7 linked regions of the Homo sapiens genome follow. The protein of the gene in region 6 purifies or fractionates together with the protein of the main gene of each other region. This does not show direct contact. Each region holds a gene or a part of one and is shown on either strand. Other genes may lie near its edges. The genes, in order: PUM2, PUM1, CASC3, PAIP2B, ELAVL2, CELF5 and MSI1.

Evidence for each region.
Region 1: the proteins of CELF5 (region 6) and PUM2 purify together in Homo sapiens (affinity purification with mass spectrometry; 2 studies listed by BioGRID and IntAct, with this or other methods). This does not show direct contact.
Region 2: the proteins of CELF5 (region 6) and PUM1 purify together in Homo sapiens (affinity purification with mass spectrometry; 2 studies listed by BioGRID and IntAct, with this or other methods). This does not show direct contact.
Region 3: the proteins of CELF5 (region 6) and CASC3 purify together in Homo sapiens (affinity purification with mass spectrometry; 2 studies listed by BioGRID and IntAct, with this or other methods). This does not show direct contact.
Region 4: the proteins of CELF5 (region 6) and PAIP2B purify together in Homo sapiens (affinity purification with mass spectrometry; 2 studies listed by BioGRID and IntAct, with this or other methods). This does not show direct contact.
Region 5: the proteins of CELF5 (region 6) and ELAVL2 purify together in Homo sapiens (affinity purification with mass spectrometry; one large-scale study listed by BioGRID and IntAct). This does not show direct contact.
Region 7: the proteins of CELF5 (region 6) and MSI1 purify together in Homo sapiens (affinity purification with mass spectrometry; one large-scale study listed by BioGRID and IntAct). This does not show direct contact.

The regions. Positions count from the first base shown.
Region 1 is NC_000002.12:20,340,845-20,344,344, reverse strand, and holds part of PUM2 (pumilio homolog 2), read left to right. Parts: intron 1-3,500. UniProt on the Homo sapiens protein: Sequence-specific RNA-binding protein that acts as a post-transcriptional repressor by binding the 3'-UTR of mRNA targets.
Region 2 is NC_000001.11:30,964,718-30,968,217, forward strand, and holds part of PUM1 (pumilio homolog 1), read right to left. Parts: exon of another isoform or gene 3,446-3,500; intron 2,594-3,445; coding exon 2,450-2,593; intron 1,562-2,449; coding exon 1,265-1,561; intron 194-1,264; coding exon 1-193. UniProt on the Homo sapiens protein: Sequence-specific RNA-binding protein that acts as a post-transcriptional repressor by binding the 3'-UTR of mRNA targets.
Region 3 is NC_000017.11:40,161,037-40,164,536, reverse strand, and holds part of CASC3 (protein CASC3), read right to left. Parts: intron 2,785-3,500; coding exon 2,626-2,784; intron 2,605-2,625; exon of another isoform or gene 2,536-2,604; coding exon 2,384-2,535; intron 1,813-2,383; coding exon 1,636-1,812; intron 1,057-1,635; coding exon 371-1,056; intron 1-370. UniProt on the Homo sapiens protein: Required for pre-mRNA splicing as component of the spliceosome. Core component of the splicing-dependent multiprotein exon junction complex (EJC) deposited at splice junctions on mRNAs.
Region 4 is NC_000002.12:71,196,104-71,199,603, reverse strand, and holds part of PAIP2B (polyadenylate-binding protein-interacting protein 2B), read left to right. Parts: intron 1-3,500. UniProt on the Homo sapiens protein: Inhibits translation of capped and polyadenylated mRNAs by displacing PABPC1 from the poly(A) tail.
Region 5 is NC_000009.12:23,760,241-23,763,740, forward strand, and holds part of ELAVL2 (ELAV-like protein 2), read right to left. Parts: intron 2,010-3,500; coding exon of another isoform or gene 1,995-2,009; coding exon 1,766-1,994; intron 1-1,765.
Region 6 is NC_000019.10:3,283,661-3,287,160, reverse strand, and holds part of CELF5 (CUGBP Elav-like family member 5), read right to left. Parts: intron 2,260-3,500; coding exon 2,197-2,259; intron 1,220-2,196; coding exon 1,136-1,219; intron 1-1,135. UniProt on the Homo sapiens protein: RNA-binding protein implicated in the regulation of pre-mRNA alternative splicing. Mediates exon inclusion and/or exclusion in pre-mRNA that are subject to tissue-specific and developmentally regulated alternative splicing.
Region 7 is NC_000012.12:120,345,165-120,348,664, forward strand, and holds part of MSI1 (RNA-binding protein Musashi homolog 1), read right to left. Parts: intron 2,351-3,500; coding exon 2,282-2,350; intron 1,159-2,281; coding exon 971-1,158; intron 469-970; coding exon 427-468; 3' UTR 406-426; intron 1-405. UniProt on the Homo sapiens protein: RNA binding protein that regulates the expression of target mRNAs at the translation level. Regulates expression of the NOTCH1 antagonist NUMB.

The sequences.
Region 1 (3,500 bases), on a different chromosome or scaffold from region 6:
TGGGCGCCTAACGCTTTGGGAGGCCGTGGCAGGTGGACTGCTTGAGCTCAGGCATTTGAGACCAGCCTGGGCAACGTGGTGAAACCCCATCTCAATAAGAAATGCAAAAATTAGCTGGGCATGGTGGCTCGCGTCTGTAGTCCCAGCTACCTGGGAGGCTGAGGCGCGAGGATCTCTTGATCCCAAGAGGTAGAGATTGCAGTGAGCCAAGATCGAGCCACTGCACTGCAGCATGGGCAACAGAGTGAGGCCCTGTCTCAAAAAATAAAATAAAGTAAAATAAAATAAAGTAAAATGATACTATGAAACCTTGTATCTGTTAATGGTAATGTTGAAGATATTTTCTATTACAACTCTGTTGCCTCAATAATGCTCCATCTAAGAAATTGCTTTTTTTTTCTCTGATACTGGGATGAGGGCGGGTGTCTCATCGTGTTGCTGGGGCTGGAGTGCAGTGGTGCAGTCACTGCTCACTGCAGCCTCAACTGCCCAGTCTCAAGCAGTTCTCTGACTTCAGCCTCCTGAGGAGCTGGCATTACAGGCGCACAACATCATACCCAACTAGTTATTTTGTTATTATTTGTAGAGACAAGGTCTCACTATGTTGCCTTGGCTAGTCTCGAATTTGTTGCCCCATGTGGTCTCGAATTCCTGGACTAAAGCAATCCTCCTGTCTTGGCCTCCTAAAGTGCTGGGATTATAGGTCCAAGCCACCATGCCCAACAGAAATTTCTTTTAAAGCTTAGTGTTAGGAATAAGGTTGCATCCAAGGGTTTGGTATGATTTCTTTCTCTGGCTAATGAGAATTGTACATACCTACTGTTTGTACAATTACTAGCACAACTGGTTAGCTTTAAACTTACTAGTTTATTTGCTATTTTATTTAATAAATTACTTAGTTATTTTTATTTAGAAACTTTTTTTTAATTTGAGGCAGGGTCTCTGTCATCCAGGCTGGAGTGCAGTGGTGTCACCCAGGCTGGAGTGGAGTGGTGTGAACATGACTCACTGCAGCCTTCACCTCCCTCGCTCTAGTGATCCTTCCACCTCAGCCTCTTGAGTAGCTGGGACCACAGGCATGTACCAGTACACCCAGCTAATTTTTTTGTTTGTTTTATTGTATATTTCCTTTAAGATAGTCTGCCGTCTTCCAAACATTTGCTTAAGTGAATAAAGTAAGTTTATTTAAATTATACTCAATTTTTTTTTAAACACAGACTCTTTTAAAAATATATAATTTAGCTGGGCATAGTGTGGCACTACTGTAACCCTAGAGGTTGAGGCAGGAGGATTGCTTGAGCCCAGGTTTGGAGGCTGTGAAGGCACCACCGCACTCTAGCCTGGGTGACAGAGTAAGACCCTGTCTATAAATATATATATGATTTAATACTTAATCCTTGAAACTAACACAGATTTGGTTTCTCTCCATACATTTCTACCTAGATGTTTGGTGGTGTTTTTGATGTAATAACTTGCCTTTTTAAAACTTAAGTATCTTTAGGAAATTGGCTTGGTCATTTCATCTCACTTTAAAGTTAACCAATTCAAAGCTTGTTCTTGATTACTTGAGGAACTTTAAAAACCGCAATTCATGCTAATCACCTAAATGATTCCTTTTACTTCAAAGATTTATACAATTCATATATATTTCTTAGACTATTCATAAGTCATAATAAGCTAAATATATTTTAAAGCTTTTAACCGTAAGTTAGGGTTTTCCTAGACAAAAATTAAATCTCTATTCTACCCAGTCTTATGAGAAAATTGAATATATTTCATACCTCACATTCATTTTTCTTTAAGTTGTCTTGGAAATGACTAGAAACACTACATAAAATGTATTTGTGTTAACATTTACAGAAAAGTTATGGTAATACTGGGTTAAGGTTAAACAGTTTTAATTGTAGAATTTCTTGGAGCCAGTAACAGAAGGAAGGAAAGATTGAACATGTACTCAGAGCTTGCAAAGGAGCAAGTGGGTGCTACTGAGCAGCATACCTGAAATGTATTGGACAAGGGATCACTTATTTCTGAGAACACTGAGTTGGTGAATAAGGAGCACACTTAGGAAAATTCCAAATATACTGCATTAAAGTCTGCTTCTTAAAATTGTTATTTTTCTCCAGTTGTCTCAGACCATGCATTCAGATTTCTTCCTTTAGTTCTCTGTTACAATTTAGTTAACATTTCTTTTTCTTTCTTTTTTTTTTTTTTTTGAGACAGAGTCTCACTCTGTTGCCCAGGCTGGAGTGTAGTGGCGCAATCTCCGCTCCATGCAACCACCACCTCCTGGGTTTAAGCGATTCTCCTGCCTCAGCCTCCCTAGTAGCTGGGATCACAGGCGCCTGCCACCACACCTGGCTAATTTTTATATTTTAGTAGAGACGGCCTTTCACCATGTTGGCCACCCTGGTCTCGAACTCATGACCGCAAGTGATCCACCTGTCTCAGCCTCCCAAAGTGCTGGGATTACAGGCGTGAGCAACCATGCTAGGCCTCTAGTTAACATTTCTTAAGTTGTTTTTCCTTGGTGAGGTATTAATTCTAATTGATAGCATGTAACAATTGAAAATTACTAAGATAGCCATGTGAGACAAGTCTTCATTTGTTGGACTTTCAGCCTAGTACTAATAGGAACAAAAAGTAACACAATAACTTTTGTACTTTGATAGTTTCCAAACTGTAATGCAGTTAAGCTATATTTATATAGGACATTAAGAAATTTATTTTGCTAACCTCAGTAAGTCTTACAATATGAAGAAATACAAAGATAAAGCCAACAGTACCTTCTTTACCAAAGTTGAGTGAGATGTTTATTTTTTCGTACTTCCCACAAACATATGTAGTCATACATTGCCCCCCTCCTTTTTTGAACAAAAATTGGATCATATGATACACATTAGGCAACTTTGTATTTTTACTTAATATCATGGACATTTTACATGTAACTTTAATTACTTGTAATTTTTGTACTGGCTCATTGTTTTAACTTTTTTCTGTTGTTGAGTTTGGCTTATTTTTTTAATTTTGTACCACCATATAAGTGGTGCTGCAGTAAATATCTTTATATAGTTAATTCATTTGTGTTGGTGCTGTTTGTTTAAGGTAAATTTCCAAAAGAGAAACTTCTGGGTCAAAATATTTTCTTTTTTTGCGGGGCAGGGAGAGGGGGGCTGTGCAGAGCGCAGGTAAGAGCTGTGGCCCCTGCTATGTTGCCTACGCTGGTCTTGAACTCCTGGACTCAAGTAATCCTCCTGCCTTGGCCAACCAAAGTGTTGGGATTATAGGCATGAGCCACTGTGCCCAGTCCAAAGAATTTTATATTGATTTTTAAACAAATAAACAAAAAGTTCAGTTTGATGTGTCATTAATACTCTAGAAAGCACTTGCATTTCAATTTCATTTATTACCTCACTTAATCTTTGCAACAGCCCTATGAGGGAGGCATTGTTGTTTCCATTTGCAAATGGACAAATGAGATCGAGTTCATTTAGCTAGTT
Region 2 (3,500 bases), on a different chromosome or scaffold from region 6:
GGTGGTGTCTGTGAATGTCCTGGTCCCTGACTAGGGAGAGGCATGCCCACGGGTCCAGGAGAGGAGGAAAAGCTAAGGCCGTTATAAAAACTGTGTCCAATGGGGGTCAAGCTGCTCGATGTCCTCTTATAAAGGTCACTGCTGCCAGTCAGGGAGTCACGGCGGGAGCCACTGCCAGTGTTGGAGTTTGCAACTAAAATGGAATTAAAACAATGCAGATAAGAACAGGCCTGTTCTTCGAAGAACAAGCCCAGTGACCTGTTCCTAACACTTTGATCCAGACTCCTTACCACCGCAAATTTGTCAGCAGAGACAGCCTAACTGTTAATGTAGCAGTACTAGGGGCAGATAAGTAATAAAGAGGACATGGCTCAGGTTAACATGACCATCAAACATATGCCAAATTTACCTTCCTATGGTGTCGTATATTATAGGATAAGGGAGGGTTAAAAAGCTCTGACGGCCACATGAACTATGGAAAAGGTGGAAGAAAATGGACTAGAAGAATGCCTTTCATCAATTGAAAAGGTTCAAGTAGAAAAATGGGATACAGAAAAAAGATTTGTAAATGGGGTACTGCCCCACTACACAAGACTTCTATATGAAAGCCTGTTTTCTCAGTGGGTTCAATCGAGAGTTAATGCTGCCCTCAATTCCAATTAAGATACTTTCTTTCACACATGCCCTTCTATTTAGGGATCACTTTTGTTTGTTTGTTTTTTATAATCTCTGCAATTATCCCATTATTCACCATACTACACTCCTGCTTTTTTCATCAAAACATTAAAAATATCTTGGTCTAATATCCTTCCTCCTAATTTTCCACATGTCTACCTTAAATTCTACTCAAAAGACTGAAGAAAACTTGTAACTCTTTAAGGCCTGCAGGCCAAGAACTCGGCTCAGTCTCAATTGTGGAGTATTTCAGCTCTGCTATCTTTAGTAAGTCCTCCTCCCTCAGTTTTTGATATCAATTTCTACAGTTCCCTCAATATTTTTCCCAAATACAGCAAAAATCTTCCCTAGATTTCAAATCCCTGAAAGAAACTGATTAAGTAAGTAGCCACATGAGCATGGATTGAAATAGGTCCCATCTGTATAACTTGATTTCAATAGTCTATCATCTCACAGATTATGTGGGATGGCTGGATTCCCACAAGGCTTGGTCCAGATCTGCCTGTGGTTCCATGCATTGCCAGTATTCCAGAAGGATTGTAAAAATAATTAAAATTCAGTCTTAAGAGCATATCAGTCTAATTTCTACCTGCTGTTCCAAACCCTCCAAGGGCGGATCCCAGGGTGGCGCCGAGAGAACTGCTACTTCCGAATCCCAAGGATGTGTTGGCAGGCTGGGCAGAGCCCTGGGAGAAGAGGGAGCTGCTCTGTGAATTGCTGTTCAGAGAGTTGTTGCCGTAGAAAGAACTGGATGCCAGGTTGTTATTGGGCTGCTGCTGGGGCTGGGGCTGAGGCTGCTGTGTTCCTAAAGGGCGAAATGGTCCATTTGTTGTTCCAGCAAGACCACCAGCTGCTCCATTTGCTGAAGCTGCGGCTGCTGCAACAGCTATGAAGAAGAAAGCAAACCGTTTGGCTATGAAAGGGACTGGCCACATTTCCAAACTACATTTTTATCTTTTTTCAAAAAATCTTTTAATGCTGCCTATCTTTTCAAAACAGACACAAACCATACAAATCTGTCTTTGATCCCTTCATATGAAGCTTCTATTTTCTGTTTCTACTTTCAATTTGAACTCAAAATACCACTAGAACAAGTTCACTATGCTGGTTGCTTTTAAGAGTATACAGATTAAAAGGGGTATAAACATCAAATGTATCCATTAAATACAACTACTTCCTAAAATCTTAAATTCCATAAATATCTATGTTGAGGGTTTCTTCTAGAACCATGTAATGCACATACACATCCTTCAAATTCCTATTTTAGCACACTGCTGTCTTCTAGATGTTCCTGTTATTGTTCTTAATTAAAAAATAAATAAATATAAACACTTAAAGTAAAAAACTATTACTCCTCCCAACCAAATGTATTATTTTGTCACTTCTCACTACTCTTTCCCACGTCCTCCACTCCTGCCCCTGTGGCAAAAAACAACCCCTCCTCTAAAATTATCTTAAAATAATGACTTGGATTTCTGCCAACAAAGCCATTTTGTGTGAGTAATGCAACTTCTATGTTCTCAGTGGAGCCAGACCTTCAGACCTTGCTTCTAACCAGCTGGCACATGCCACCCCTCCCCCAACCCACCAACCCCCCAACAAAAAGGAGAATCCACTAAGGTCACTTATTGCTTCTGATCTCTTTTTGAAACATTACAGGGTAGAACCGATATACTGAGAATTGCCAAAAGTTTATTTCAACATACTTTAAGAATCTCACTATCAGTCGCCACTTTTAGATCTCTGGCAGGAGTCCACTCAGATGTGCGCTCACCTGCTTGTGCAGCTGAGGAACTAATGATGACTGGGGCAGGAGCTACAAGTCGAACAGGAGCTCCAAGACCATTTCTCGCGCCTGCATTCACTACAAGGGCACCAGTTTGGTCATAGTAAGCAGCAGGAGCCAACACCGGATAACCTAGGAATATCAAGCCAACAAAGAAATGTATATGTTAAACAAACAAGTATCTCCTGGGCACCAACATATTGTCAATAATCACAAACTCAGCTTTGAGGTTGAATTGGCCAGATTTATATACTGGCTCCATCACTTAAATAGTTGAATAAACAGAGGCTACAAATGATTATAAAAATCATAGTACTTTCATACTACATAATAATTTAAGAACAAATATCCTGCAAAATAGCAGGAAAAACCTAGATAGGCTTTAAATAACATGATCTTTCAATATTATGTGAGATAGAATCTCCAAATCCCAGTTTAAGCCATATGAAAAACTGCAGGTGACTTCCTAAGAACACACAAAGGCTCAGTAACTAAAAAACAAATGAAACAGGTTAAAGTTATTTATTGAATTCATAAATGGCTCAGTTAAATTGGCTATGCTCTATGATCAGTAAAGGTCCATAAAAATACGCTGACATCTCTCAAAGACTTGTTTCACATGTAGAACATCAAAGTACATCTAATCCCATGCAAAGCACCAAACCAGCTGACAGTGAACCAAAAACAACATATATTCAAGATGTATCTATATAAACATGTATCTCAGAGGTAGACAGCTAAAAAGGACCCCTACTATTGGTTTAAGAGAAACCTTAAAAACGTAAGGGATGACCCTATCAAGGTATACCAGAAATTTCTCACTAATCATGCTGTTCAAAAACATCAACATAAAGACTAAGCCTTGTAAACTAGCTTGGCCACTCCATCTATCCCTGATTCTGAAACAGAAAACAGATAATCCACCAAGGAAAAACCACATATTCCAAGCTGCATGGACATTTAGATACCTCCAATATGACTTAAGACTGGCTCAGAACAATGCTCTCATCAGTGAACTATAGTCTAAGTGAGGGCAAGT
Region 3 (3,500 bases), on a different chromosome or scaffold from region 6:
GGTGGACATTACAGTGAGCCGAGATCGTGCCACTGCATCTAGCTTAGGCAACAGAGCAAGACTCCATCTCAAAACAAATAAATAAATAAAAATACAAAAAAAAAAATTAGCTGGGCGTGGTGGTGTGCGCCTGTAACCCCAGCTACTCAGGAGGCTGAGGCAGGAGAATCACTTGAACCTGGGAGGCGAAGGTTGCAGTGAGCCAAAATCGCGCCACTGCACTCCAGCCTGGGCAAAAGAGTGAGACTCTGTCTCAAAAAAAAAGAAGTAGACATTTGTCAGACACCACCTTCCTGAGACAGAAGTCCCATGCCCCTAAACCTGATGATGCAAAGGGGAAAAAGCTAGCCACCAATCCTATGATACCTACCTCGAAGTTCCCGTGGTTGCAGGAAAGAAGGCTGCCCCGGACTCCAATTCTGTTCTGCTATATTTAGTTGTGCCACATCTTGCTCAAGTCCACTTGTACTAGAATCCACCGGAGCTTCCCAGGTCCCAGTCTTAGTAGGTGGAGTTGGGGTGGTTTCTGGGACTGGAGGTGCTGGAATCAGTCCTTCAGGAGGAGGGGGCACCTCCTCTGCAAGCTTGACTGCATCTCCAACTTTGGTTCGAGTTCTTCTTGCCCGGGAATAGGATTTCTTCTCAATGGGCCTATCAGGGGGTGGTGGTGCAGCATCAGGAGCAGCAGCTGGTGGCTCTGAGGCTGCCTCTTCCTTCTCAGGACTGCCAAGCACTGGAGCATCTGCTTCTGGAGATGGATCCCTCACAGAAGTCTGCTCTAGGCGCCGTGACCGGTAACTAATCTCATGCTTAACAGTCTCACCAGACCGGCCACCATGCTGCCCACCAGCTTCCACAGGCCTAAAACCAGCACGACCTTCCTTGAAGCCCCCAGATCGAGAATAATTCCTGGGTGCAGACATACGGCCGGTACCTGCAGCATTCCTGTTAATAAATGTCCTTGGTGGTAGGGTGCCCCCAAGACCCTGGTGGCGATGAGACTTGTTTAGCCGCTCACCGTTCCAGTTTGGATCTCTTTGTGGAGGACTCCCATATCTACAAAAAATGGAATGAAGAAACTGTTAGGAAATTAACAAAAGGAGGCTACGCGCGGTGGCTCAGGCCTGTAATCCCAGCACTTTGGGAGATCGAGACGGGCAGATCACTTGAGGCCAGGAGTTCAAGACCAGCCTGGCCAACATAGCGAAACCTCATTTCTACTAAAAATACAAAAATTAGCCGATCGCGATAGTACGCGCCTGTAATCCTGGCTACTCAGGAGGCTGAAGCAGGAGAATCACTTCAACCCAAGAGGTGGAGGTTGCAGTGAGCCGAGAACATGCCATTGCACTCCAGCCTAGGCAACACAGCGAGACTCTGTCTTAAATAAATAAATAAAAAGAAAAGCAAAGAGAATTCTTTCTAAAAGATATCAAGAGTCTACACTCTATTTTTTTTTTCCTTTTTTTCTTTTTTTTTTTGGAGACAGGGTCTCACTATGTTCCCCAGGCTGGTCTTGAACTCCTGGCCTCAAGCAATCCTCCTGCCTCAGCCTCCCAAAGTGCCGGGATTCCAGGTGTAAGCCACCGTAAGCCACCATACCCAGCCTGGTCTTATGTTCTAAAATGTCCTCACCGGGGTTTCCGGATTCTTCGAGGTTTGATGTCATCAGGATTATGAGCTGAGCGAATGTCATAACCATAAAGAGCAATGAGCTCCTGTCGGGACTTTGGGGCCTGCTCATCTTCCCGGAACTTGTCATGCTCCCAGCGACCCTCATCCTTCCATAGCTTTCGCTGACGCCCCTTGGGTCTGGATAAAATGAAGGAAAAGTGTCTTGGGTCAGCAGAATTCTCCAAGTAGAGATGTTCTTGAACAAAATGGGTCAGGGAGGCAGGGGGACAATAGGAACTTTACGTAGTCTCCTCATCATCCCAAAGAGATTATAAAAAACAGGCCTCCCCAAAGCAAGCGTGAATCACAGAACCTCAGGGCCTGCTGGGCTCAAATATAACAGACACAGAAATGAGAAAAAGACTTCATTTCATGCCATTCAGTACCTTTGAAACATCTCCTTTCTCCTAAAAGGCAACCTATGCAAGTATTTCACTTCTCAGACGCCTTACACCTCAGACTAAGAAAAGCAAAAGTATAATAATTAAGAGAAGATGAGTTCTGGAAACAAACTGTCCTAGGTCTGTATCTTAGCTGCCTCACCAAGAGTTACCAAATATTCTAAGCCTACTTTCCTCATTTGTACGATAAGGATAATCATAATACTTATCTTAAAATGCTGTAATAAATGAAATACAGGCAAATCGAAGTACCTGGCCTACATGTGTAAAATACATGTTAGACAGCAGCAGCAGCAAGTGGCTTTTACCTGACTTCCTCCTCCTGAGTTTGCCCTCGAAGATCATGCTCAAAGAAGAGCCCTTTCCGAGGTATGTATGCTGGATTCTTCCGATCTTCATCATCATCCAAATGCTTAGGGCCCTTTTTACCCACTTTGTTCTCCACAGGCTCTGTGCTCTCCTAGAGGACAGATAAAGGGATCCTTACTCTTCCAAGCCTCAAGAATCTCTATTCCAGCCTCTAAAATGGAGGACTGTGGAATGTACTAACCTGTCCGTCCCCACTTTGCCTCTCTCCAGTCACAGTGCTTTTGGTGTCAGGCTTTTCTTCTCCCTTCTCTTCTTTTGTTGAAGAATTAACAGCATCATTAGCTTCTGATTTCAGCTCCACTTTGGAGTTTTCCTCTTCACTGTATTCACCTTCTTCACCCTGAAAAAAGTTTCCCTGTCAGCGATGCATATAAGATCTGAACGGTGCATTTTAATTCCCACCCCTGCCCCCAACCCCAAAACAAAGTCTCTGTCACCCAGGCTGGAATACAGTGGCACAATCTCAGCTCACTGTAACCTCTGCCTCCAGGGGTCAAGCAATTCTCCTGCCTCAGCCTCCTAAATAGCTGGGATTATAGGCGCCCACTACCGCGCCTGGCTAATTTTTGTATGTTTAGTAGAGACCAGGTTTCACCATGTTGGCCAGGCTGGTCTTGAACTCCTGATTTCGTGATCTGCCTGCCTTGGCCGCCCAAAGTGCTGGGTTTATAGGCGTGAGCCACCGTGCCTGGCTGCATTTCAATTTTCTACTCTTTAGGAATACATTTATCAATAAATTTTTAGTACAACATAGAACTGAAAAGCAAACAAATCAATATTCTTACCCATATTTCTAGAAAATAAAGATCCTATTTTGGCCTGGCACAGTGGCTCACGCCTGTAATCACATTTTGGGAGGCCAATGCAGGCAGATCACCTGCGGTCAGGAGTGTGAGACCAACCTGGCCAGCATGGCAAAACCCCATCTCTACTAGAAATATAAGAATTAGCCGCACTTGGTGGTAGGCACCTGTAATCCCAGCTGCTCGGGAGGCTGAGGCAGGAAAATCGTTTGAACCAGGGAGGCAGAGCTTGCAGTGAGCAGAGACTGCGCCA
Region 4 (3,500 bases), on a different chromosome or scaffold from region 6:
CAGAGTAAGACTCCGTCTCAAAAAAAAAAAAAGGACGCAGTTGGGTTAAGGGGGAAAAAAAGGGAGAAGTGTAATTATATGCAACTTGGAACATACACTCTCACTGGCTATTCAGGCCACAGAAAAAGATGGAAAATGCTTAGTGAATTGTAAAATCTTATGGGTCATTTCTAACTAGATTTTTTTTTTTTTTTTACTCTAAGCTTCTGTCATTTTCCCGTTGGGTGTCTATTAAGTAAAAATCAGGGTAGATATATTCTGAAATGTCAACAATATTCATTATGTGTGAGTGTTGAGATTAAGGGGGCTTTTTTTCCCTTCCAATTTGGTTTTCTTAGTTCTGATTTCCCAACTCATATGCAAAGAAAATGGATTACTTCCACAATAAGGGAAACAGGTTCACATGTAAAGAACCTAAAAGAGAAACATCTGAATTAAAATGCTTCAGAAAAGGAAAACAAAATAATGAAGATAGAAAATATCAGGAAATTTCAAACACAAAGCAATATAAGTACTGGATAAAGTGGAAATTGAAGGGAAAAAACAGTTCTCTCAAACCCTGCTACTGCTTTATCAACTAAGTTGATTATGTAATATTCTAAATCCTTCGTTGTCATTTCCACAGTGTTCAGAATATGAATAGGAACAAAGATCATCAAGATTCAGGAGGATGGCAAAACCCAGTCCAAGGAAAATAAAAATCATAGTAAAGTGATACAGGAGCTGAAAGACAAAATAGGCAGTATAAAAAAAGAACCTAACAGGTTTGACAGAGCTGAATAACACAAGAATTTCACAATGCAATCACAAGTATTAACAGCAGAATAAACCAAGCTGAGGAAAGAATCTCAGAACTTGAAGACTGGTTCTCTAAAATAAGACAGGCCAGGCATGGTGGCTCACACCTGTAATCCCAGGACTTTGGGAGGCTGAGGCGGGGATCACCTAAGGTCAGGAGTCAGAGACCAGCCTGGCCAACATGATGAAACCCCATCTCTACTAAAAATACAAAAATTAGCGGCTGGGCGCGGTGGCTCACGCCTGTAATCCCAGCACTTTGGGAGGCCGAGGTGGGCGGATCACGAGGTCAGGAGATCGAGACCATCCTGGCTAACACGGTGAAACCCCGTCTCTACTAAAAATACAAAAAATTAGCCGGGCGTGGTAGCGGGCGCCTGTAGTCCCAGCTACTCGGGAGGCTGAGGCAGGAGAATGGTGTGAACCCAGGAGGCGGAGCTTGCAGTGAGCCGAGATCGCGCCACTGCACTCCAGCCTGGGCGACAGAGCGAGACTCTGTCTCAAAAAAAAAAAAAAAAAATTAGCTGGGCCTGGTGGCAGGCACCTGTATCCCAGCTACTCGGGAGGCTGAGGCAGGAGAATCTCTTGAATCTGGGAAGTGGAGGTTGCAGTGAGCTGAGATCACATCACTGCACTCTAACCTGGGCAACAAGTGTGAAACTGCATCTCAAAAAAATTAAATAAGACAGTCAAAAATAAAGCAAGAAGAATAGAAAGGAATGAACAAAAACCTCCAAGAAGTATGGGATTATGTAAAGAGGACAAATCTATGTATCACTGGCATCCCTGAAAGGGAGGGGAACAAAGTAAATAACTTGAAAGATATATTTCAGGATTGATATGGTTTGGCTCTGTGTCACCACCCAAATCTCATCTTGTAGCTCCCATAATTCCCATGTGTTGTGGGAGGGACCTGGTGGGAGATGACTGAATTATGAGGGTGAGTCTTTCCTTGCTGTTCTCATGATAGTGAATTGGTCTCACGAGATTTGATGGTTTTAAAAACGGGAGTTTTCCTGCACAAGCTCTCTCTCTTTGCTTGCCGCCATCCATGTAAGATGTGACTTGCTCCTCCTTACCTTTTACCTTCTGCCATAATTGTGAGGCCTCCCCAGCCACATGAAACTATAAGTTCAGTAAACCTCCTTCTTTTTTAAATTGCCCAGTCTTGGATATGTCTTTATCAGCAGTGTGAAAACAGACTAATACAAGGATACCATCCATGAAAACTTCCCCAACCATGTTAGAGAGTCCAACAGTCAAATTCAGAAAATACAGAGAACTCCTGCAAGATTCCACACAAGAAGATCATTCCCAAGACACATAATCATCAGACTTTCCAAGGTCAAAATGAAAGAATATTAAAGACAGCTAGAGAGAAAGGGTAGGTCACCTACAAAGAGATCCCTATCAGGCTAACAGCAGACCTCTTGGCTGAAACCCTATAAGCCAGAAGAGACTGGGGGACTATATTTAACATTCTTAGAGTAAAAAAATCTTCAACCAAGAATTTATATCCAGCCAAACTAAGTTTCTTAAATGAAGGAAAAATAAGATCCTTTTCAGATAAGCAAATGTTGAGGGACTTCATTACTACTAAACTTGCCTTACAGGAGACCTTGAAAAGAGCACTAAATATAGAAAGGAAAGACCACTACCAGCTAATACAAAAACCCACTTAACCACACAGACCAGTGTCACTGTAAAACAACCACACAAACAGGCCAACATAATAACCAGCAAACAGCACAATGACAGGATCAAATCCACACATATCAATACCAACATTGAATGTAAATGAGCTAAATGCCTCACTTAAAAGGCACAGAGTGGCAAGCTGGGTAAAAAAGCAAGACCCAATAGCATGCTGTCTTCAAGAAACCCATCTCACACATAATGACACTCATAGGCTCAAAATAAAGGGATGGAGAGAAATCTACCAAGCAAATGGAAAACAGAAAAAAGCAGGGGTTGCAATCCTAATTTCAGACAAAACAGATTTTAAACCAACAAAGATAAAAAAAGACAAGGGAAGGACATTACATAATGGTAAAGGGTTCAATTCAGCAAGAAGACCTAACTTTCCTAAATACATATGCACACAACATAGGAGCACCCAGATTCATAAAGCAAGTTCTTTATGAATCTGGGTGCAAAAAGACATAGACAGCCACATAATATTAATAATGTGAGACTTCTATACTCCACTGACAATATTAGATCATTGAAGCAGAAAATTAACTAAGATATACAGGACCTAAATTCACCATTGGAACAAATGGGTCTGCTAGACCTTTACAGAAGTCTCCACCCAAAAACAACAGAGTGTACATTAATCTCATTGCCACATGGTACACACTTTAAAATTGACCACATAATTGGACATAAAACAATCCTCAACAAGTGTAAAAGAACCGAAATCATACCAAACACACTCTTGGACCACAGCACAATAAAAATAGAAGTCAACACAATGAAAATAAAACCATACAATTACATGGAAATTAGACAACATACTCCTGAATGACTTTCAGGTAAATAATGAAATTGAGGCAGAAATCAAGTTATTTGAAAATAAGGAGAACAAAGATACAACATACCAGAATCTCTGGAACATAGCTAAGGCAGTGTTAAGAGGGAAATTCATAGCACTAAATGCCCACCTCACAAAGTGATAAAAGATCTCAAATTAACAACCTAAC
Region 5 (3,500 bases), on a different chromosome or scaffold from region 6:
TATGATTTGTCTAATATTTTCATCTTATAAAATGATAAAATGTATCATTTCGTAACAGTTTCATAACAAAACATGACTTTTGTGCTCTGTTCATGCATCTTTCTTTTTAATAGTAAGGGGAGCTCTACTAAGCAATCAGAAATTGCATCATTTGTGTCATAGCCCTCAAGTCATTTATCATATTTTTATCTTTTATATTAAAAAGGTTGCAAAATCCACATGTCAGGGGTGTTGTTTTACTTTAAAAACAAAAGATAACATGTTTAAAACATGTTAAAAAGATGTTTAAAAACATCACGACAGAGACGTAAGAGCAGCCTTTTGTTCTTCACCTTTTTCAACTTATTAAAAACACTATAAATTTCACATATGCTTATCACACTCATTTTGGAAAAGAAATTGAAAAATCTCATCCATCTGATTATCAGTGTTCAGAAACATAAGAACCACCTTCCTAATATCATAGTGAACATTTAAGCAACATAATTAAAATATAATGGCCGTTTGCTATGGATCAATGACAATCAGTTTGTACTTAGCTTTTTAACTTGATTTCAGTAAGTTGTCTCTGTGAATCTCAATCTGTAGCTTGAGGAAATATGATTATGAGCCAAGTCCAGGGGCTGGCTCTAGAACTCACTTGCAGATCTTGGAGAGAATGAGCCCTAACGATTAACGGAATAGCTCAAAGTCCCATGTATGAAAAAGTCAAAAGTGAACTTAGAAATGGCCCAGTGTTACCCCCTTTTTCTCTGCCTTTTACCTTATTTTGCCAATGGAAACCAGAAGTCTAGGGCTGACTTATCCAATGTCACATGACTAGGTGAGAGTTCAGACTCCTGGTCTCATTCTTCACACTGCCTTTAAGTATCTTTTACTCATTTCAAATATTCCATTTTATATTTTTGGTTATAAGCTTTGTAAAGCAATTTGGTATACACTATCAATCAAATTTAATTAACATGAAAAGTCCACAGAGTCTGTCTACCTTCGTATATTTTTAGTGTTTAACTTCATATGTATGTCTAACTTCATGTATTTTTAGTGTTTGAAAACAACTCCTGCAGGAAGCATTAACCCTTCTATCCCAAGAACGTGCTCTTTAAATTAGGTTTTGGTTTACTCTAAAAATTTAGTCAAATCTTAAAAAATACTAAGGAGATTTTCACCTAATATTCAAAATGTACTATAATTAAGGCTTTATCTTTATAACAAGAAGGACAATCATATACCATGTCCTTTCCTTGTTAAGGAACGGAACATAAGATCTCATCACGCTTGGTATTATATCAGTGAAAATGTTTATACACTGACAATGTGAACATTACCATTTATTTTATCATATATAAGCAAAATGATTATATTAACATAAGGAAAACACATTTTAAGATTTTTTCCCCTCTCCCAAACACATATTGTATCTCACTGTTGAAATGCTAACTTAAATACACTCAGGGTACTAAAAGATAAAAGTTAACATGACACTGGCTATCCCAGATACATATACTTTTAGAAGATTTTCCAAAGATCCTGTCCAGATCAGAGTACATTAAAGTCCAGTTAAAATATATACTGCCCCCAAAATAGTTTATGATTTAAAAAGAAAATTTTAAACTAAGTTTCATATTGCTGATGTAATAACAGAGAGAAAATCTAGATATGTAAAATTGCAGCAGTGAATTATTTACAAGCAGTAATCTTATTATTTTCTCCTATCTTGAGACACGATCCGTTAAATATAAATCATCTACATAAAACTGCTTACCTGTTATTTTGTCTCTTACAAGCTTACAGGACTCTATTTCACCAATGCTCCCAAAGAGACTCTTTAGTTCCTCCTGTGTCATGTTCTGAGGAAGGTAGTTGACTATTAAGTTGGTCTTGCTGTCTTCTGTGTTCCCAGAGTCAACTGGTGACGAACAGTTGTTGTTTATGGTGGTTGGACCATTGGCTGTGTTATTGCAAGTTGGCCCATTAGACAGTTGTGTTTCCATGGCAGCAATTACCTGCTAAAAACAGAGAAAACAAGAAATGTCAGAATTCATATTTCACAACCTATTAGAGACTCCATCCAAGAATTTAAACACTTGTCACTAAACACAAGTCGTTCTAATGAAATTACAACAATGCTTCAACAAAAAGTGTAATACCTACACTAATTTTCACTTCATATTAACCTATTCATCTTAAGGTTACAACTATATTTTCACATACATATTCCATACATGCATATAAGCACAATTTAAATCTTAAACATTTTCTAGAATCACATTCTGGGTCTATTCACATATCCTTACTCACCTGCAGTGTCCACAGATGAGAAAATCAAGTACCAAAGGGCACAGAATTGAACCCTAACTAAAAATCATACTAGAAAATAAAAGTGCTTAACATGCTACAAAAATGAACAAAAAAATGACCTACCTAACTCTGAAGAGATTTTCAGTTATCCTAAGAGGTTCAATATTCTAAAACTGACAGATAGCCATTAACTTAAAAATCAAAGAGCAAGAGTACTTTTAAAAATATAAATTTGTCAACATGTACTGTTTTGGTTACATATTGAAAACGTTTTTGATGGACAATATCTTATCTCTACCATTGGTAAGAAAAAAACAGATGCTATATTTTAGGGAGTGGAAAGGAACTAACTGTAAGGTAACTTGGGAATGAGCTATGAATACTTTGTCTAACTGGTAGAATCTAATAGGACACTCCTGTCAACCTTGGCAGCTAAAAATTACCAACAAGGTGACTGATCTACAACATCAAAATAAAATCCCCAAACACTTCGATATGGTGTTTCTCCTTGACTCTGCTTTTTAATGAGAAAAAAGAAAACCTATCCAGTCAATGAAAACAACAATGTAAATATATCAACTTTTGCAAACAGACCAGCCCAAGGAATTCTCGTCTGAGCACATAAGCCTGTTGAAAATGCAAGTAATAGGGTATCTATAAACTCCAAACACCAGATAAAGAACAGAATTGGGGAAAATGGCCTCAAACTGTTCAGGCTACTCTACAAATCACTTATTAAGCAGTATTAAATCTAGTTTCCTAAAACCAATCCTATGCAAAAGAGTCACAAACCACAGCCCCAAATTTTCCAAAATCATTTTCCACTAACTACCTATCTTTGGACAGCCAAGACTGTGGTGGAATCTAAAAATCAACGCATCACTGAAAGGATTATCCTTCATATTGCATACATCTCTCACCTCCACAAAGAACTGCTTCTCAAAACTGACAATTCTGAATTGACGGGATGCTAGTTTTAGGGAAGCTTTAACATAGAAAAGGCAAAGAACTTGAGGCAAAGAAAAAAAGCAAAGTAAAGGGAAAGAGGGTTACAAGGAAAGAGAAAAAACTGTCTTTTAAAACACATATTGCCTAAGAAAAATAAAAGGGCACATTAGCAGATAAACATATAGGAAGAAATCTCTACTGCCAGGAGATGTTTACAAAAGAAGGCAGTGTTGGACATATTGAGACTGGTC
Region 6 (3,500 bases):
TGCTGTATAGTGTTCCATCGTGCAGCTCCATCCTAATTTATTTATCCATTTACCTGCTGATGAACACTTGGGTTGTTACCAGCTTGGGATTTTTTTCTTTTCTTTTCTTTTTTTTTTTTTTTTTTTGAGACGGAGTCTTGCTCTGTCGCCCAGGCTGGAGTGCAGTGGTGCGATCTCGGCTCACTGCAAGCTCCGCCTCCTGGGTTCATGCCATTCTCCTGCCTCAGCCTCCCGAGTAGCTGGGACCACAGGCGCCCGCCACCACACCCAGCTAATTTTTTCTATTTTTTAGTAGAGACAGGGTTTCCCCGTGTTAGCCAGGATGGTCTCGATCTCCTGACCTTGTGATCCGCCCGCCTCGGCCTCCCAAAGTGCTGGGATTACAGGCGTGAGCCACCGTGCCCGGCCTTTTTTTTTTTTTTTTTTTTTGAGATGGAGTCTTGCTCTCTCACCCAGGCTGGAGTCCAGTGGGGAGATAGTAGCTCACTGAAGCCTTGACCTCCTGGGCTCAGTGATCCTCCTGCTCCAGCCTCCTGAGTAGCTGGGACTACAGGTGCACACCACTACACCTGGCCAATTTTTAATTTTTTTGTAGACATGGGGTCTTGCTAAGCCAGGCTGGTCTTGGACTCCTGGGCTCAAGTGATCCTCCCACCTCGGCCCCCAAAACGCTATGTAATTACAGGCGGGATCTACCGCACATGGCAAGAACTGTATGGATTTGAACCCTGACTGTCAGACTCCAGAATCGAATCCCTCCCTCCTTCGACAGCCTTGGCTTTACTGGGGAGGCCTCATTACCTGATACCTCATCGTGCCATGCCCCAGCCTCAAAAAGGGTTTCCTTTCCAAAAAATCCAGAGAATCACTCTTGGTTCTGGAGAGGGCTGGTAGGAAGTCACTGCTATTCCTACGGGGTCGGGGCGAGCATGGTTCTCTTTTCGGAGGAGGAAACAGAGAGGGAGATTCCCAGGGGTCAGCGGCTGCACCGGGACTCAACTCTGGCCTGTCCAGCCCCCAGGCCGCACTCTCAGCCCCGCGGGTCCCAGAGGCCCGGGCCAGACACGGAGCCTGCAGGTGGACAGGGCGGGCAGAGGGCGGGGCTGGCGCCCAGGGGAGGTTGCGGCCGCCTCACCTTCTCGCTGCTGCTGCTGCAGGAGGGGCGGCGGCTGGGGGACGCTGTGCGCGATGGGCGTGATGGCCGCGGTGGGGTACATGGCTGCGGAGACCGGAGCGAGACACAGGGCGAGGAGGGGCGTGAGGCCACGTGGGCGGCCTGGGCCGCTGGGCGGGGAGGGGGCGGGGCCATAAGAGGGTGGGGCCAAGGCAGGAGTGGGTGTGATCATGGCCTTTGTGGGGAGGGTTTGGGGGCGGGGCCAGGCCAGAGGGCGGGGCCAAGATCACAGACGAAACGGGGAGGGGCTATTGCCTGAGGGGCGGGGCCATGGTGGAGGGCAGGGCCAATACCGAGACGGGGCGGGGAAGGGGGGGTGGGGGCGGACCCCATGGCGTGAGGGGAGGGGTATAGGGGTTGGGCCACAGTAGAGGGCGGGGCCAAGGCTACAGGACAGTCCAGAGTGGGCGGGACCATTGCTTGAGGGGTGGGGTCACAGTGGAGGGCGGGGGCAAGACTGGGATGAAGGGCATGAGTGGGGCGGGGCCGTGACTTGATGGAGGGCTATGTGGGCAGGACCATGAGTTAAGGGGCGGGGCCGCAGCAGAGGGCGGGGTCACAGCCAGGCCTTAAGAAGTAGAGCCAGAGGTAGGGGCGGGGCTTTATCAGAGAGGCGTGGTCAGAGTAAAGGCAGGAAGTGAGGGGCGGGGCTAGGAGCTGCAGGAGGGAGGGTAAGGGGCAGGGCCGAGAGCTGGGGTTGGGTCAGAGCTAGAGACGTGGTCAAGGGGAATTCCCTCTCCCCAACACAGAACATGAGAGGGTAAGGCCATGGGTAAGCGCTGTCCTTAAAGGACAAGGGAAGGTCCTGTTTGCGGGTATAGGTGGTGGTGGGGTGGGACCAGTAACAGGGCCCGGGGTTGAATACAGGACAAGGGGCTAAGGGTGGGCCCTGAGGGGCGGGGCCAGAGGTAGGAGGCGCGGCTAGGCACAGAAGAACGACACGTCCGGGGCGGGCCCTGGGGGCGGGGCCCTAGGCGGGGGCGGGGCCAGGGCCCAGCGCGGGCACGCGGGCTGCCTCCTACCTGTGTACTGCTGGACTCCGGAGAAGGCAGGATGCAGTGTCTCGGCCACAGTCGGGCTCTGAGCTGCGGGCAGACAGAGGGGCTGAGTGGGGCGGGAGCAGCAGAAGTCTTCCATCCACCCCCGATCCTTAAGAGCCGCAAGGACAGCAACAAACACCCCGCCCAGCTTCTCCTCTGTGCTAAACCCTCTGTAGGACCAGGAAGCTGAGGCCGAGGAAGGTGAAGCCACTTGCACAGGGCCACTCAGATAGCAAATGGCAGAAGCTGAACTGGAATCCGGGTTTCTCGGACTCCAGAGAGAGATCACCATCGTCCCCATCTCCCTCTCCCTATCCCGACCCGGTTGCCTCCCAAGGGGGACCCTTCACTCCTCTCTACTCCCTGGATTCACCAGGACTTCAGCCTCCACCTCAAATCACCACCTGCCCCCATCCCCTGCCCCGTCTCCCTCTCCACATGAGTTTCCTCATCAGACACCCTGTAGCTCCCCCATCTAGCTGTAGCCTTCCTGCTACCGCTAGGGAAAGGGGTAGGGGAGGGAAGAAGTTGTCCAGGCCACCAAAGCTGATGATTCTGGGGAAAAATTCAGCCAAACAATTCTGCCCGAATGGAGAGTGTGCTGGAGGGCAGGGGATAGTGGTGGTGACTGTGACTTCAAAGGGGTGGCAGGAAGGAGTTCACTTTGTGGGCAAGAAGCAGTTCTGTATCTTCACTGTGGGAGATCCACAAGTCTGCATCTGTGACAAAATGGCAATTAACCGCCCCTGCACACACACACACACACGTGCACAGAGTGCATACAAAAACTCGTGAAATCAGCTGGGTGTGGTGGCTCACACTTGTGATCCCAACACTTTGGGAGGCCGAGGAAGGAGGATCGCTTGAGCCCAGGAGTTTCGAGACCAGCTTGGGCAACATAGCAAGACCCTCATTTCTTAAAAAATAAAATAAAATCGAAAATTAGCCAAGCATAATGGCACGTGCCTGTAGTCCCAGTGACTTGGGAGGCTGAGGTGAGAGGTGAGAGGATCGCTTCAGCCCAGGAGTTCGAGAGTTCAAGGCTGCAGCGAGCTATGATCACGCCACTGCACTCCAGCCTGGGCGACAGAGTGAGACTCTGTCGCTAAATAAATAAATGGTGAAATTTGAATACCGTCTGGAGTTGAATTAATTGTATGGTGCCAGTGTTAGTTTCCTGGGTTTGACAGTGACCTATGATTAGATAAGCTGCTGGCATCAGGGAAGCTGTGTGAAGGGTACCTGGGACTGCTCTGTGGTATTTTGGTAACTCCCTGTGAACCTCC
Region 7 (3,500 bases), on a different chromosome or scaffold from region 6:
AACACAGTGAAACCCTGTCTCTACAAAAAAAGTAAAAAAATTAGCCAGGCATGGTGGCAGGTGCTTGCAGTCCCAGCTACTCGGGAGGAGTCTGAGGTGGGAGGATCCCTTGAGCCCAGGAGGTGTGGGTGACAGAACGATATCTTGTCTCAAAAATAATAATAATAATAATCTTTGCCAACCTGATAGGTGGGATGTGAAGCCTTACTGTTGCTTTGATTTCTGTGTTTAAATGGAGTAGGGTGAGCAGCTTTTCATCTTTATTGACCACAGCTGGTATAAAGATCTGTCTCCCCTGGGACTGTGGTTCTTGAGGGCAGGGATGGGGTCTGTGTCCCAGATTCGATGGCCCAGGACAGGCTTCCCCAGTGCCACCCCACCACCTGCCCACCCCCACATCCTCACCTCCTGCCACCGTCCCCTGCTTCAGTGGTACCCATTGGTGAAGGCTGTGGCAATCAAAGGGCCCTGAAAAGGAAAGAATTTGACTCCTAGATTCCTGGGAAATAGAGGAAGATCAGGGGCTCCTTCTCTCTCTGCAGGACATCTGAAGTGAGGCGCTGACCTCTCTCTACCTGTCCGGATCGCCCCCCTACTGCAGGTCTGCCTACCCGGATCACCCCCCACTGCAGGTCTGCTCAAAGATTCTCCAACAGAGGGCCAGGGAATCTGCACAAACCGTACCCTGGATAAAACCAGGGCACCCCTGGAATCAAACCTCCATGTGAGCAGAGATGCCATGTGTCTCATTTGCACCTAGAGCCCACTATGCCTGGCATTCAGAGGCGATAACTAAGTGCCCACTGAATGAATGATAACCCCCACAACTCTTCCTTAGTGATCTTTCTCCATTCATCCTCCCTCACCCTCCTTTTGCCCCCAGAGACAAAGAAGTTCTCTCCCTTCCCCAACTTGGGGGTCTCTCAAGGTGTGGGGGGTGAGGTGGGGGCCGCTAGGCCTGGCCACTCACCCCAAGACTGTGGCCGAAGCCGGTGCTGGGGGCAGGGCTGGCGGCGCTGATGTAACTGCTGACCCCCGAGTCCTGGTTGGCCGCCCCGTAGAGCTCGGCCATGGGGCCGGGGCTGGTGGTCCCCAGGAAGCCCCCTGTGCGGCTGGGAGTCGAACCTGGAGGGGGAGCCATCGTCCAGGGGTGAGAGCCTGGCAACCCAGAAAGAAGACGGTGATAGCCCTGGTGCCCTCTGCCACCCCACGGCACCCCCTCAAGCCTGTCCCACCCACCCTAACCTGGACCCCCACATTTCAGAAAGTCCTGTGGGCCCACCTCCTGGAGATCTCCCCATGCCCATCCACCCAGTCACCCCTAGCCCTGACCCCCATCATCTCGTCTGACCACTCAGCAGCCTCACCTCCTGAGCCCCTTCCCAACCTCTCCCCACCTAGCAGCTGAATGCATGTTCTAAACCCTGACCCGCGTCCCTCTGCTACTTGCAATTTCCACTGTCTCCCCACCACCCGGGCTCCTCCTGCCTCCGTTCTCCACTCCCCACTTCCGCACTTTCCCCACCCACTGGCCTCCAAGCCTTTGCATATGCTATTCCCTCAACCAGAAACACTTTTCCTCCTCTTTGCCTTTGAATGCAAAGTTAAGAGGCCCTTCCTCTTGGAAGCCTTCCCTCGCCTTTCCTAGAGGCCCCAGCTGGGAGCTCCTCTGGTACTGGACTCCCCCTAGTGCAGCAGCATCAGCCATCAGCATTATTGCCTTTTTAATACCTGATGCCACCACCAGGCTGCAAGCCCTGGAAGGCAGAGACCCTGTCAGTCTTTTTTTTTTTTCTTTTGAGACAGACGGAGTCTCACTCTGTTGCCCAGGCTGGAGTGCAGTGACGTGATCTCAGCTCACTGCAACCTCCGCCTCCCGGGTTCAAGCGATTCTCCTGCCTTGGCCTCCCGAGTAGCTGGGATTACAGGCGCGCACCACCACGCCCAGCTAATTTTTGTATTTTTAGTAGAGACGGGGTCTCACCATGTTGGCCAGGCTGCTCTGGAACTCCTGACCTCAGGTGATCTGCCCACCTTGGCCTCCCAAAGTGCCAGGATTATAGGCAGGAGCCACCGCGCCCAGCCGACCCTGTCAGTCTTGCTGAGGGCTGGCTCGCCCATGCTGGCACGATGCCCAGCACAGAGCAGGTAATCAGGTGATACTTGAGTGAATGAACAAGTGTCCCTCTGCAAAGGGGTGGCAGTGGCCTTCTCCCCTCCCCTGGACTTCTCTGCTCCCTGTGCTCCCTCATCTCTCTTCCTGCACCTCAGAAGAGCTCACCTGTCCCTCGAACCACAGCCGCTGCCGCCGCTGCCGCCGCCATTGGTCCGTAGGCAGTGAGAGGAATGGCTGAAAGGAAAGGGATGGGCACATCAGCATGGCGGTGAGGGGCAGAGATGGGTGAAGGAGGCCCCTACCTTTTAGGCAGAGCCTGTCCAGCCTGGCCCTACCTCAGAGGGTTCCATGTAGCCCCAGGGTCAAGGCAGAAAAGGCTACCTTGGGCCACACCATCTGTGTCCTGACCTGTGGCATGGATGGAAAAAGGTGGGAGAGAGGACAGCTTCCCAGTGAGTAGCTGAGCCTCAATTTCTCCCCTGGTCTGGGGGGACATGCTTGAATAACCCAAAGCTCATGGAGGGTGGAGGCAGGGCACCCAACCCTGAGAAGCTGCGAAGGTTGCCCGCAGCTGCCCCCTTCTCCAGGATGCCCTTGGCAAAACAGGGATCACTTGGCCCAGAGGTGCCTGGGAGCTCACGTCCTTCTTCGCAGCCCACGACACCTGGCGATAGACAGACATGGGACAGGCCCCCAGGCCTGCTGCCCCCAGGTAGAGCGCTCTAGGGGTCAGGCTGAGGCTGGGCTCACACCGAGGCCATAGCGTTGCACCGCACCTTCTGCTGCCTGTCCTGCTCCCCTCGCCCCTGTCTCCTGAGAGCACCCTAAGGGCCTCCCTGACCACCCAGAAATGACCACTGCCTCCCCCAAATCCCCCCAGCCTCTTTGTCTGCCATCTCCTCTTCAGACACAGGCACCTATCCCCTTGTTTGCTGTCTGCCATCATCGCCACCTCTGCAGCACCTAGCACCTTGCCTTGTACACGGCAGGTGCTTAATACCTGCTGAAAGAGTAGAAAGGGAATCTGCTTAAAACACCCAGTGGCTTGAATGGCTTGAGCCTGGGGCTCCCTGGGGCTGAGAGATGAGCACCTCCTACTGTGAATCTTTCCTAAAAACTTCATACAGTGGGCTCCTTCTCACTCAGATGCCACCTCCTCTAAGAAGCTTTCCCTGAATACCCCCACTCAGGCGGCCCCTTGTCCCCAACCATAACGCCTTAGCACATTTCCCTGCTTTAATTTCCTCATGGAACTTCTCACCCTCCAAAAATATCTTTTTTTTTTTAAATTAATTTTTTTGTAAAGATAGGGTCTTGGAAAGGCTGGGTGCGGTGGCTCATGCCTGTGATCCCAGCACTTTGGGAGGCCGAGGCGGGCGGATCA